2 separate regions of the Homo sapiens genome follow, and region 2 is linked to region 1. Evidence: fine-mapped expression QTL. A gene starts in region 1. The other region holds a variant in brackets. All regions are shown on one strand. Distances are between the middles of the regions. Region 1 holds the start of APRT (adenine phosphoribosyltransferase). Region 2 overlaps GALNS (galactosamine (N-acetyl)-6-sulfatase).

Evidence for each region. PIP is the estimated chance that this variant, and not a neighbour inherited with it, causes the effect.
Region 2: its variant is fine-mapped to the expression of APRT in transverse colon (GTEx, PIP above 0.99).

What each region holds. Positions count from the first base shown.
Region 1 is chr16:88,809,679-88,815,040 of GRCh38, forward strand. It overlaps APRT (adenine phosphoribosyltransferase), which reads right to left and starts at 2,250. Exons shown (of 5, transcript NM_000485.3): 1 at 2,142-2,250; 2 at 1,872-1,978; 3 at 745-878; 4 at 392-470; 5 at 1-162. The coding sequence starts at 2,221. The coding sequence ends at 20. It overlaps GALNS (galactosamine (N-acetyl)-6-sulfatase), which reads right to left. Exons shown (of 14, transcript NM_000512.5): 14 at 4,056-4,847. The coding sequence ends at 4,761. RefSeq lists enhancers at 584-1,119, 2,625-3,309, 3,310-3,993 and silencers at 2,003-2,402, 2,653-2,912.
Region 2 is chr16:88,840,271-88,845,632 of GRCh38, forward strand. GALNS (galactosamine (N-acetyl)-6-sulfatase) reads right to left here. Exons shown (of 14, transcript NM_000512.5): 2 at 2,436-2,559; 3 at 1,627-1,701; 4 at 722-824. Among named protein-coding and RNA genes, the nearest start is that of GALNS, 14 kb to the right of the region's middle. The variant G/T (reference allele first, on the strand shown) is at 2,481.

The DNA.
Region 1 (5,362 bases):
GGGCTGGGAGGCCCTGTGGTCACTCATACTGCAGGAGAGAGAAGAAGGGTACAGGTGCCAGCTTCTCCCTGCCCTTAAGCGAGGTCAGCTCCACCAGGCTCACGCACTCCAGGACCTCAGCCTGCAGGCGGCCCAGCAGCTCACAGGCAGCGTTCATGGTTCCTGGGGATGGGAGGGTGAGGTCCCCAGTTGGCCTGGGCTGCAGAGAGCAGGTGCTCCAGGCCAGCCCCTGGGTTGGGGAGGGGAAGGCATGGGGAGAGGAAGGTGTCGGCCTGGCCACCAGGCACCCTCTGGACAACAGTAAGCTGCATCCCATGTCACACAGCGAGGTCCTGTCCCACTCCCACCAGGCCCTTGGAGCCACAGCAGTTGGCTGCGGGGAGACCCTTACCACCAGTGGCCAGCAGATCATCCACGACGACCACCCTCTGTCCTGGCTCCAGGGCGTCTTTCTGAATCTCCAGCTCAGCCTGGAGTGGGAAGTGGTGTGTGGTCCTCAGCCTCCCGCAGAAAACAGCTTTGTTGCACAGCTTGGCAGCTGCCACCCTAGACCCTGACTCCAACCCCACCTTGCTGTTACCTGGCTGTGTGAGCCCAGCCTATGTCTCAACCTCTCTGAGCTCCCAAGGCCACTGTAACCACAGCAGCTCCACTTGACACGCCTGGGAAGGCCTTTTAGAACTGGGGGAGAGTGGCCACGGTGGCCTGGCCCTGCCCTTCCTCTGGCCACCCCAGCCCTCTTACCTTCCCGTACTCCAGGGAATAGGAGGCCCACAGAGTGGGGCCTGGCAGCTTCCCCCGCTTTCGGATGAGCACGCAGCCCAGTCCAAGCTCCTGGGCCAGGGAGGGGCCAAAGAGGAAGCCTCGGGAGTCTAGGCCTGTCAGGGTAAGTGACAGGAGTGACTCGGCAGCATGGGAATCCCCAGGGGCCAGGGTTGGCCGGTGGCAAGGGGTACCTGGTTGGCTCCCAGCTGAAAGGCCAGTGACATGCACCATTTAAGGAATGTTACCCATCACCTACCCGGAGCTGCTTCCAGGTCAGAGTGCAGACCTGGGTCTGTCTTTTAAGGGACCACTTCTTAGCTGTGTGTTCCTAGGGGAGTCACCACCCCTCTCTCTGAGCTGAGCAGCCCATCTGTAACTGGGCTGGTAGAAACCTGACAGGCCTCAGCTTACTCTCAAAGGCAGCTCTGCACCAGGGCTTCTGTCTAAAAAGGGAGTCTCTCGAGGTGGCCTGAGCTGTGATGGTTGGGGGACGCTCAGGGAAACCCTGCCCCGGCCTGGCAGGAGGTCAGGGAGGGCTTCCTGCAGGAGGTGAGAAGGGAGCTCTGGCAGTGTTGTGGCTCCAGCAAGAGCTGGCGCTTTCCTCAGGGCAGTGTCCAGGGAGTGGGCTGTCACACCCTAGGAGAGGCAAGACGGCCAGGAACACTCTGTTCTCCCTGGGCCACCTCTTGGGCTCTCCCGGAGGCCTCCAGGCCTCCCTTCCCTGGGTGGGCATTCCGTGATCTTCACCAGGGAAGGCCTGGCTCGTGGCAGGCGCTCAATACCAGCTCGCAGAAGGAACAAGAAGCAAGGCAGCTGGGCCCTGTGGATTCAGCTTGGGCACTCCAGGGAGACCAACTGACCCGGCAACTCGGTCACGCCTGTCCTGGGCTGGGGACCCGGAACCTGCGGGAAGGACGCCTGCACAGCGCGGCGGCCTCGGGGGCTCAATCTCACAACCCTTCCCGGGCGACCCAAGCACGGCGCCCGTCCCGGCGCCCCCTGAAGCACCCCAAAGGCCCTCCCCCAAGCAGACGCGCAGAGCCCACGTGCTGCCCTCGGCGCGCGCAGAGGCGGAAGCGCCCTAGATGCGGCCACTGGGCACTCGCCTGCGATGTAGTCGATGCGGCCCCCGTGGGTCGCCTTCAGGTGTCGCGCCAGGAGGCCGATGGCGGCGCGGAAGGAGGCGGGGTCCTTCAGGACGGGCGAGATGTCCCTGGACCCAAGGACAGGCCTGGTGACGCCGGGGCCGAAGGAGGGCAGGGCCCCGGGGGCGAAAGACGAGGGTTCCCGCCCCGCCCGCCCGGAGGTCGCGGGCCACGCGCTCCCATCCGTAGGCCCGCAGGTCGGGGCGCCACGAGGGCGGCCTGTGCGTGCACCTGAATACCACGCCTGGGGTGGGGAAGTCGGGGAAGCTGCGGATCCGCTGCTCAACCAGCTGCAGCTCGGAGTCGGCCATGGCCGCGTGCGAAGAGCCAGCGGCAGCCCGAGCGCGCCTGCGCGGGGACGGGCGGGACCGCCACGAGGGGTGGGGCATCCCCGGAGGGCGGAGCGTGGGTGAGGGGCGGGGCATCCGTCGCCGGAAGCCTGTACCGTATTTCATGGACTCCTAGGCGCCATCGATTTTAAGACGCGCTCGCATTCCACGCACCACTGAGCAGAACGTTCGAACCGGACAAAAGTGCGAGTCAAGGCGCCCTTCCTTGTCTCGGGCTACGCTTCTGACTGCAGCCAGGCAGCTGTGGGCCGGGGCCTTGGCGGCTGGAGGAGGGGCGTGAGCTGGTCTCGCCCACGCACCTGGCGCGCGTACGGGCCGCGCCCTTTCTCCTTTATTGGCCGAGATCCCCACGCTGCGCGCGGGAGGCTGGCGCGCGGGGTGGAGAAGGGCGTGAGGAAGCGGTCCAAGTAGCAGGAGGGCGGTGCAGGGCCCGGAGGGAGCAGCCCAGGGCGGAGGCGGCGGGCCTGGGCTGGACCGGCCGGGGGCGCTGGCCTCTCGCGGATGGGCCCTGCCGTTGAGGCGGCTCTTCCCCGCCCGGACCCGGGGGAGGGAGGCCGGAAGGTGTGGCCAGGCCAGGGCGCGCATCCGCGAGGGCAGAAGCCCTTCTGTCCGCCTGCAGAGGCCAGGTGACCCCTTAGCCTTGGGGTGGGGAGCTGTGAACCCCCTGGCCGCCCGAGGACTGGTACCCAGGGGGTTGTGTGAGGCATAACTCCCCCCAAACACAATTTCCTTTCAAGAAAATCCCCAGAGCTAAAATGCCTTGTGCTCTATTCCAAGACTTTTCTTCATTTCGCAACTTTTTTTTGAGAAGGACTCTCGCTCTGTCGCCCAGGATGGAGCACAGTGGCGCCATCTGGGCTCACTGCAAGCTCCACCTCCTGGGTTCCGGCCATTCTCCCGCCTCAGCCTCCCGAGTAGCTGGGACTACAGGAGCCCGCCACCACGCCCTGCTAATTTTTTGTATTTTTAGTAGAGACGCAGTTTCACTGTGTTAGCCAGGATGGTCTCGATCTCCTGACCCCGTGATCTGCCCGCTTCGGCCTCCCAAAGTGCCGGGATTACAGGCGTGAGCCACCGCGCCCGGCCCATCATTTCGCAACTTTTACAATTCAGCTTTGGCCTGGCAGTTACTGCAGAAGGGAAAACCCACTCAGTGGAAGGCAGCCCCCAGGAGCCTTCGGAGGGGGAGGCCGGAGGCTGCATGCGGCTGCTGGGGCCCCGGTTCCAGGGCGGGTGGGGGACCCATCGTCTGATGCCAAGGGGCGTGGTAGGGGCGGCTGCCTCGCAGTGTGCGGTGGTCAGGGCTGGCAAGGCCTGGGGCCTGGGCTCCAGACCCCTAGGGAAGGTGGAAATGGAGGACCCTGACATCCTCACGTCCCCGGGGAAGCTGCCACATGAGCCGGCCCCACCGGTCCAAGTGTGTGAGCTACACTTCAGCCGTCCACGTCCAGCCCAGGAGGCCTCCGCCTTCCCCTTCCTTGTTCCTGATTCTGTCTCCCAGATGGCCCGAGGGGGGCCTGGGAAGGCGTGGGGTGGGGGGGTACTGGAGGAGGGGCCTGGGGAGGGTTCAACACAGAATTGGCCCTGTGGCTTCCTTCAACCCGGGCTGTTGGGCTGGCGTGGGAACAGCAAGGAGCCCCGAGTCCTGCCCTTCAACAACCAATGTGGCGCTGGCCTCTGGAGGAGGCCGGCCGGGAGGCAGCGGGAGCTGGGCACCTGATTCTTGGCAGCTGCTGAGAAGGTGTGAAAGGAAAATAAATCTCCGGACCCCAAAATCACTCAGCCAAGAGAAAAATCAAGCTGGGAATTAGGCAAACCTGCCTCCCGTTTTATTTCTAAATAACATAGTTACAATGATAAGAAGCTACACGCCTCCCTCATAATTAGCGTCCAGGGAAATTCCTTGTGGACAAAGGACAGACGGAACTGGAAGTCATCCCTCTGGGGCTCCCCTGAGACAAACGCTTATATGATTGCCCCGTTCCCTTACTGTTTACATAAAAATGCGGATTCACTGGGCCAGACTCAATCGTGTATTCAGTGGAAGGCTGACTGAACCAATGTACGCCATACACATACTGATCTTGTGTCTCCCTAAGATGTATAAAGGCAAACTGTATCCCCAGCCACCTCAGGCACCTGTTGTCAGGACCTCCTGAGGCTGTCACAGGTGCATCCTTAACCTTGGCAAAATAAACTGAGACTGGTCTCAGATATTTGGGGTTCACAAAGGCGTGAGACGGCAGGGTCCTGAGGTCTGAGGCGCCGTGGGCGAGGAGGAGGGTCCTGAAATCTGAGGCGCCGTGGGCGAGGAGGAGGGCCAAGCACACGCCAGGGTCAGGTCCTGGGCAGGTGGAATTGTGCAGTCCCCCTGCGTCTGCAGGTGCTGTCTGTCTGGCTTGGGCAGGGTTGGGGGAGGACCGAGGCCAGAGCCATCCTTCCTCCAGGCACTTGCAGGGCCAACCGGAGATTCTAGGCCTGGCCTGAGTCTGCGCAGGTGCTAGTGGGACCAGAGGCACTTCTTGGGAATGGATTCTGGAGGTGTCAGACACTTCCCTAACTTTTCACAGCCCGGAGGTGCCCAGTTCTGGGAAATGAAAATTGAGAAAAAGAACATGCAGTTATTCAAGCTCTTCTGGACCCAGCAGCAGCGGGCATTTTGTTGTTGCTGTTCTGAGACAGTCTCACTCTGTCACCCAGGCTGGAGTTCAGTGGCGCGATCTTGGCTCACTGCAACCTCTGCCTTCCGGGTTCAAGAGATTCTCCTGCCTCAGCCTCCTGAGTGAGTAGCTGCTGGGATTACAGGCACGCGCCACCACGCCTGGCTAATTTTTGTATTTTTAGTAGAGACGGAGTTTCACCATCTTGACCAGGCTGGTCTTGAACTCCTGACCTCGTGATCCACCTGCCTTGGCCTCCCAAGGTGCTGGGATTACAGGTGTGAGCCACCACGCCCAACCATTTTTGTATTTTTGGTAGAGACAAGGGTTCCCCAAGTTGGCCAGGCTGGTCTCAAACTTCTGACCTCAGGTGATCCACCTGCCTTGGCCTCCCAAAGTGCTGGGATTATAGGCGTGAGCCACCGCGCTTGGCCTCGAGCAG
Region 2 (5,362 bases), 31 kb after region 1:
CAGGAGCCACAGGCAGCCGACTGGGGATCACAGAGGCTGGGAAAGCAGCAAGGGCTTCCTGGAGGAGGCGGCATGCGGACCTGACAGGCGGGGAACGCTCCAACAAGTGGAGAGAAATTCGGGACAGGTGACTCCTACCCAACCCTCTAGGCTCACTCAGGCGTCCCAGGGAGTAAAAGAAATGAAACATCCTGTGCGCCTAAAACCGCAGCGTGGGGGCTGTGTAGCACCCAAGCTCTCATCAGCTCAGGATTTCATCAACTGCTAGGCTGTTACTCTCCTTCCTGGTGGCTTCTTTGTGGTTTAGACCAGAGCTTTCACCATCCAACAGGCCCCTAGGGTGGACAGGCAGCTCCTCCGCCACAGCTCCTGTGTGTAATGACGTGGCCCCTCCAAGGACGACGTGGCAGGAGGCAGCCGGGGGGCAGTGGTGGCGGGTGCTAGGGGCTGTGACTCGAGGGATGACGGTGACAGGCCTGCGGAGTCTGATGCCGCAGGATACTCGCGGCCGTGGGACCAGCCTGGTGACCTGAGATCCTGCTGGCAAGGTCACGCTGGCCTGCACAGGGACGCTGGAGACACCTGAACACACCCAGAATCAGCTGCCGTTTCCCACCCAAGACACCCTCCTCATTTGGAAACTTGTGGCCATGTCCCTTGGAACCAAGGCCAGGAAGTGGATGGAGCAGGACGCCTGGGCAGGCGTGGCCAGGAGACTTACCACTTGCCGACAATCTTGCTGACGTAGCCGGCCTTCTTCAGAAGCTCCGGCAGGAGCTGCTCCGAGTCTGGGATGCCGCCCACAATCTCCTGCGGTGTGTAGGCTGGAAGAGCAGCGCTGGGTGAGCCCCGAGGAGACCCCGAGAAGCTGCCACCAACCCCATCCTAACAGGACACTGGGGGCTGCGTCCACACATCCTAACAGGACACTGGCCCCTCGGGGTCAAAGGCTGTGCCTGGGGGCTGCGCGTCCACAGGGCATGGCACTTCCCAAGATTTTTCCAGGCACCCCTCAGAGCCAGTGCCATCACCAGAGGGTGGGGACGGGGCAGACTCCGTGCCCCCCAGCGCCTTCCTTGGGACTCCTGCCCACCCTCAGGCCCCACCCTGCCTCTCAGGCCAGCCTCCCACCTGCCTGGTCTCCAGGGGTCTCTGGAATATGCCACGTGATGCTGCACTGCCCCACCCCTGCCTCCCCCGTCCTTCCCTTTCCTCAAATGCCACTGGAAATCCCACTTCCCCTGTGAGATGCCCCTGGGGAGCCCATCCAAACCCCTCAAGCACAGCGATTCCAGAACATTCCAGAACTGCCGCTGATGCCACAGCCCCGGCCTCCCTGTGGGTGTGCGGCTCACCCGCCTGGGGAGTGGGAGCTTCTGGGGTGGGGGTGCCGGCTCAGCTCCTTAGGCCAGACTGGGCACCCTCCGCTCAGTCCCCACTGGGCCAGGGCAGGGAAGGAAGCCAGCTAGGGGGGCCTGCACTTCCACCTAAGTCCCAGAGACCCAGGCACCAGCGGTACCCCACCTGCAGCTTGCCACCCGAGTCCCGGAGACACGGGCACCACCCGTAGCCCACCTGCCCAACCCTGCACCCCAAGGGTGTCCCTGGAGGCGGTGGGCAGCCTACCGTTTCTGGCATGGGCGTTGGTGGTGTAGAAGCCATTGCGGATGGGTAGCCGTCCTGTGAGCAGTGCCGCCCTCGCTATGTGGAGGTGACAGAAACAGAAACTGGATAAGAAGGGTGTGGCTCAGACCCCGGGCGTCAACAAGAGCCCCAACGAGTAGACAGACGCGTGACAGACGAGGCACGCGCAGGTTTACAAGGGGCTGCCACGCCTGTCAATCCCCGTTAGCGTCTCCACCACCTGGGTGGGGCACGGCACCCATTCCACTGAAAGACGCGTGGCCCTTGGGCCCTGCAGCTCAGCGTTGTCCCCAAGACCCCGCCTCCTTTCGCAGGCTCCTGGGACACCCACTGGGCGTGCAGGTCCACACGCCCCCATCCTCGAGCACCAGCCCCGTGCCCTGCCTTCTCCTCTTCCTCACGATCAACACCACATGTTTCTGTCTCCAGCAGGAGAGACTCTCCCCAGGGAGGGAGGGAGTGGGACTCCTGCTTCCCAGGTACCCTGAGACGGAGCCACACTGCAGCACCTCTCCCCAGGCGGCCACAGCACTCGACTCTGGGAAACAGAACAGCAGCCACCAACAATACCGCAACTTCGACCCTGAAAACCCAGCAGGTGCCGCACCCCACATGGCACGGAGCCGGGCTGGGATTTGATGAGAAAGGCCTGAGCCCACCTGCCACCCTCCCTGCAGTAGTAGGAATAGACAAGGTTGATGCAGCCGCCCAGAGTCAGGGCTGGAAGGACCCGGGAGGCCTCGGCCTGTTGGGCTCACCCCTTCCTGGGGGCGAGGGCCCCGCTGACTTACATGGCGAGCACAGAGGGTTGGCAGAATAGAAGTTTGGGAAAAGCA[G/T]CCCTTCTGCAGCCATCCGGTCCAAATTCGGGGTCTCTCTGGAGGGCTCTCCATACACCCCGAGGTCACCCCATCCCATCTGCAGGGAAGAGCACGGGGAGGAGGAATGAGCGCCTTCTGCAGGTGCTTCTGGCCTGGGGAGCTGCCCATGGTGCCAAGAGCGTGTCGGGGACCGTGGAAGCCAGCACCACCCTGTGTCCCAGCCAGCGGCAGAGCTCGGCCAAACCCCAGCATCGCCTGCGTGCGTGCACGATGGGGCCGCTCCACGCCAGCCCAAACCTCAGCATCGCCTGCGTGCGTGCACGATGGGGCCGCTCCACGGTCAGCCCACGCTGTCTTTCGCCTCCACTTCTGCTTGGTCTTCAGGTGGGGAATGTGTCCGTCTGCCTCCTCCCAGCCTGACACCAGCATCTGCATGCTCGCAGGAGCTGGCCTCTAAACACGTGCATCTATTTTCAACATAAATACACAGGCCCTCGTATGTCTGTACACGTCTAGATTTCAAAGTCAACTGGTAACTGTCCCCCAGAAGCCCAGTTATCGTGTGACCCTGCAGTTCCACGCTGCAACTCCACTCCTAGCTGTACACCCAAGAGACTGAAACTTACGTCCACACGCAGGCCTGCATACGAGCGTCCAGGGCAGCACGACTCAGTGGCCAAAAGGCAGGAGCACCCTGAGCGCCCATCGGCAGACGACAAAGTGCGGCCGGCGTGTACTACGTGGGTGTGGCCACATTTGGAAGTAGGGTCTCTGCAGATGTAGTGAGCTAAGATGAGGTCACGCTGGGCCAGGGTGGGCCCTCAATCCTATGACTGGGCCCTTAGAGACGCAGACATGCAGTAGAGATGCCGGGTGAAGGCCGAGGCCGAGACTGGAGTGACGCAGCCACCAGCCAGGGGACAGCAAGGACCTTCCTGGAGAGCCTGAGGGGGAGGGGCCCGGCTGACACCTTGATTTTGCACTTCTGGCCTCCAGAATCCGGCAAGAATCCATTTCCGCTAAGGCCACCTGGCCTGTGGTAACGTGTTATGTCTCAGGAAACTCACGCACGTACCGCGGCACACTACCCAACCATCGAAAGGAAGGGCACCCCACACCGCGCACGGCCCTGGAAAGCTTCATGTGAGGGAAGGAAGCAGACACAAGGGCCACACAGGCTGTGATTTGCTCATTAAGCCTCCGGAACAGGCCGGTCCGCAGAGGCAGGAGGCGGCTGAGTGGCTGCCGGGGCTGGGGGTGGGTGCTGGGGAGGGCCTGCTGATGAGTACCGGTTTCTTCTTGGGATGGACTGTTTGGAAGCAGGTAGAAGGGATGGAGGCACCACGCTGTGAATGGACTGTGCCCGAGTGGTGCACGTTAAGGTGGCTGTCATGGTCAATTTTACGTTCTGTGTATTTTACAATAAAAACCCCAAGCAGGAGGACGGGTGAGCACAGGGCAGGAAGCACGGAGGCTGGGGTGATGCCAGGAGGCCGGGGTGATGCCAGGTGTGATGGCACCAGCACAGCAAATGCCCACGGCAAACTCCGGAGGTGAGTGGCAGCGGCGGTGTTCACTGAAAACTTCTTCAAATTTTACAGTGTGTATTGTTGGAAAAAAGTGCTTTTAAACAGGCAGTGGGCCAGGACTTTGCTCTAGAAGGAGAAGGGGAGGGCACCGCCTGGGGCTTTGGCTCTCCTCGGATCCTCCAGCCGTCTCCCTGAGCGCCCACCTCAGCAGGAGCCTGGTAGAAGCCAACACTCCGAGGCCCCTCTGTCTGGCCTGTCTTCCTTCCTTAAGGACATATTCCCTCCTGAGGTGCTCCAAGCACCAACCAAGACACCAGTGAAGTGACTGTGCCTGCCTGGGCCCCTGCCCTCTACAGGCCGCCTTCAGCAGCTTCGGCAGCACAAACACACAACACCTGGGAAAGACAACACATTCTAAACACAACGACCAAGTTCACAGGCCCAGCTGAATTCAACCACCACGTTCACAGGCCCAGCTGCATTCAACGCATATTTATTTCTGAAACCAATCTGAATGCAAATATGGATATTTAGAGCTGGCATCAGCAAATGCATTATGTAAAGGGCCTCACAGCAAATCCTTTCAGCTTTGTGGGCCATATGGGGCTGTCACAGCCCCTCAGCCCTGCCACAAGCCAGCATGCGAGCAGATGTGCACGCTCTGTGCCAATAAAACTTTATTCATCAACATCTGAATTTCATATAATTTTTCATGTCACAAAATATTACTCTTTTGGTTTTTTGAACAATTTAAAATTATAAAACCCATGCCTGGCTTATGGGTTTAAAAAACGGCAGGTGGTGGGCCGGGCTCGGTGGCTCACGCCTGTAATCCCAGCACCGTGGGAGGCCGAGGCGGGCGGATCACCAGGTCAGGAGATCGAGACCATCCTGGCTAACATGGTGAAACCCCGCCTCTACTAAAAATACAAAAAATTAGCCAGGCATGGTGGTGGGCACCTGTAGTCCCGGCTACTCGGAGTACAGTAGCCGGCAGGAGAATCGCTTGAACCTGGGAGGCGGAGGTTGCAGTGAGCCAAGATTGTACCACTGCACTCCAGCCTGGGCAACAGAGGGAGACTCCGTCCCAAAACCACAACAACAACAAAACCCAGCAGGTGGTTCACATTTGACCCATGGGCTGGAGTTGGCCAACCTCTGTCTTAGTGAAAGTGCAGCTACCCTATCTTAAAAGGCAATCATGGGGCTGGGTGCGGTGGCTCACGCCTGTAATCCTAGTACTTTGGGAGGCCGAGGTAGGCGGATCACAAGGTTAGGAGTTCGAGACCAGCCTGGCCAATATGATGAAACCCAGTCTCTACTAAAAACACAAGAATTAGCTGGGCATGGTGGCGGGCACCTGTACCAGCT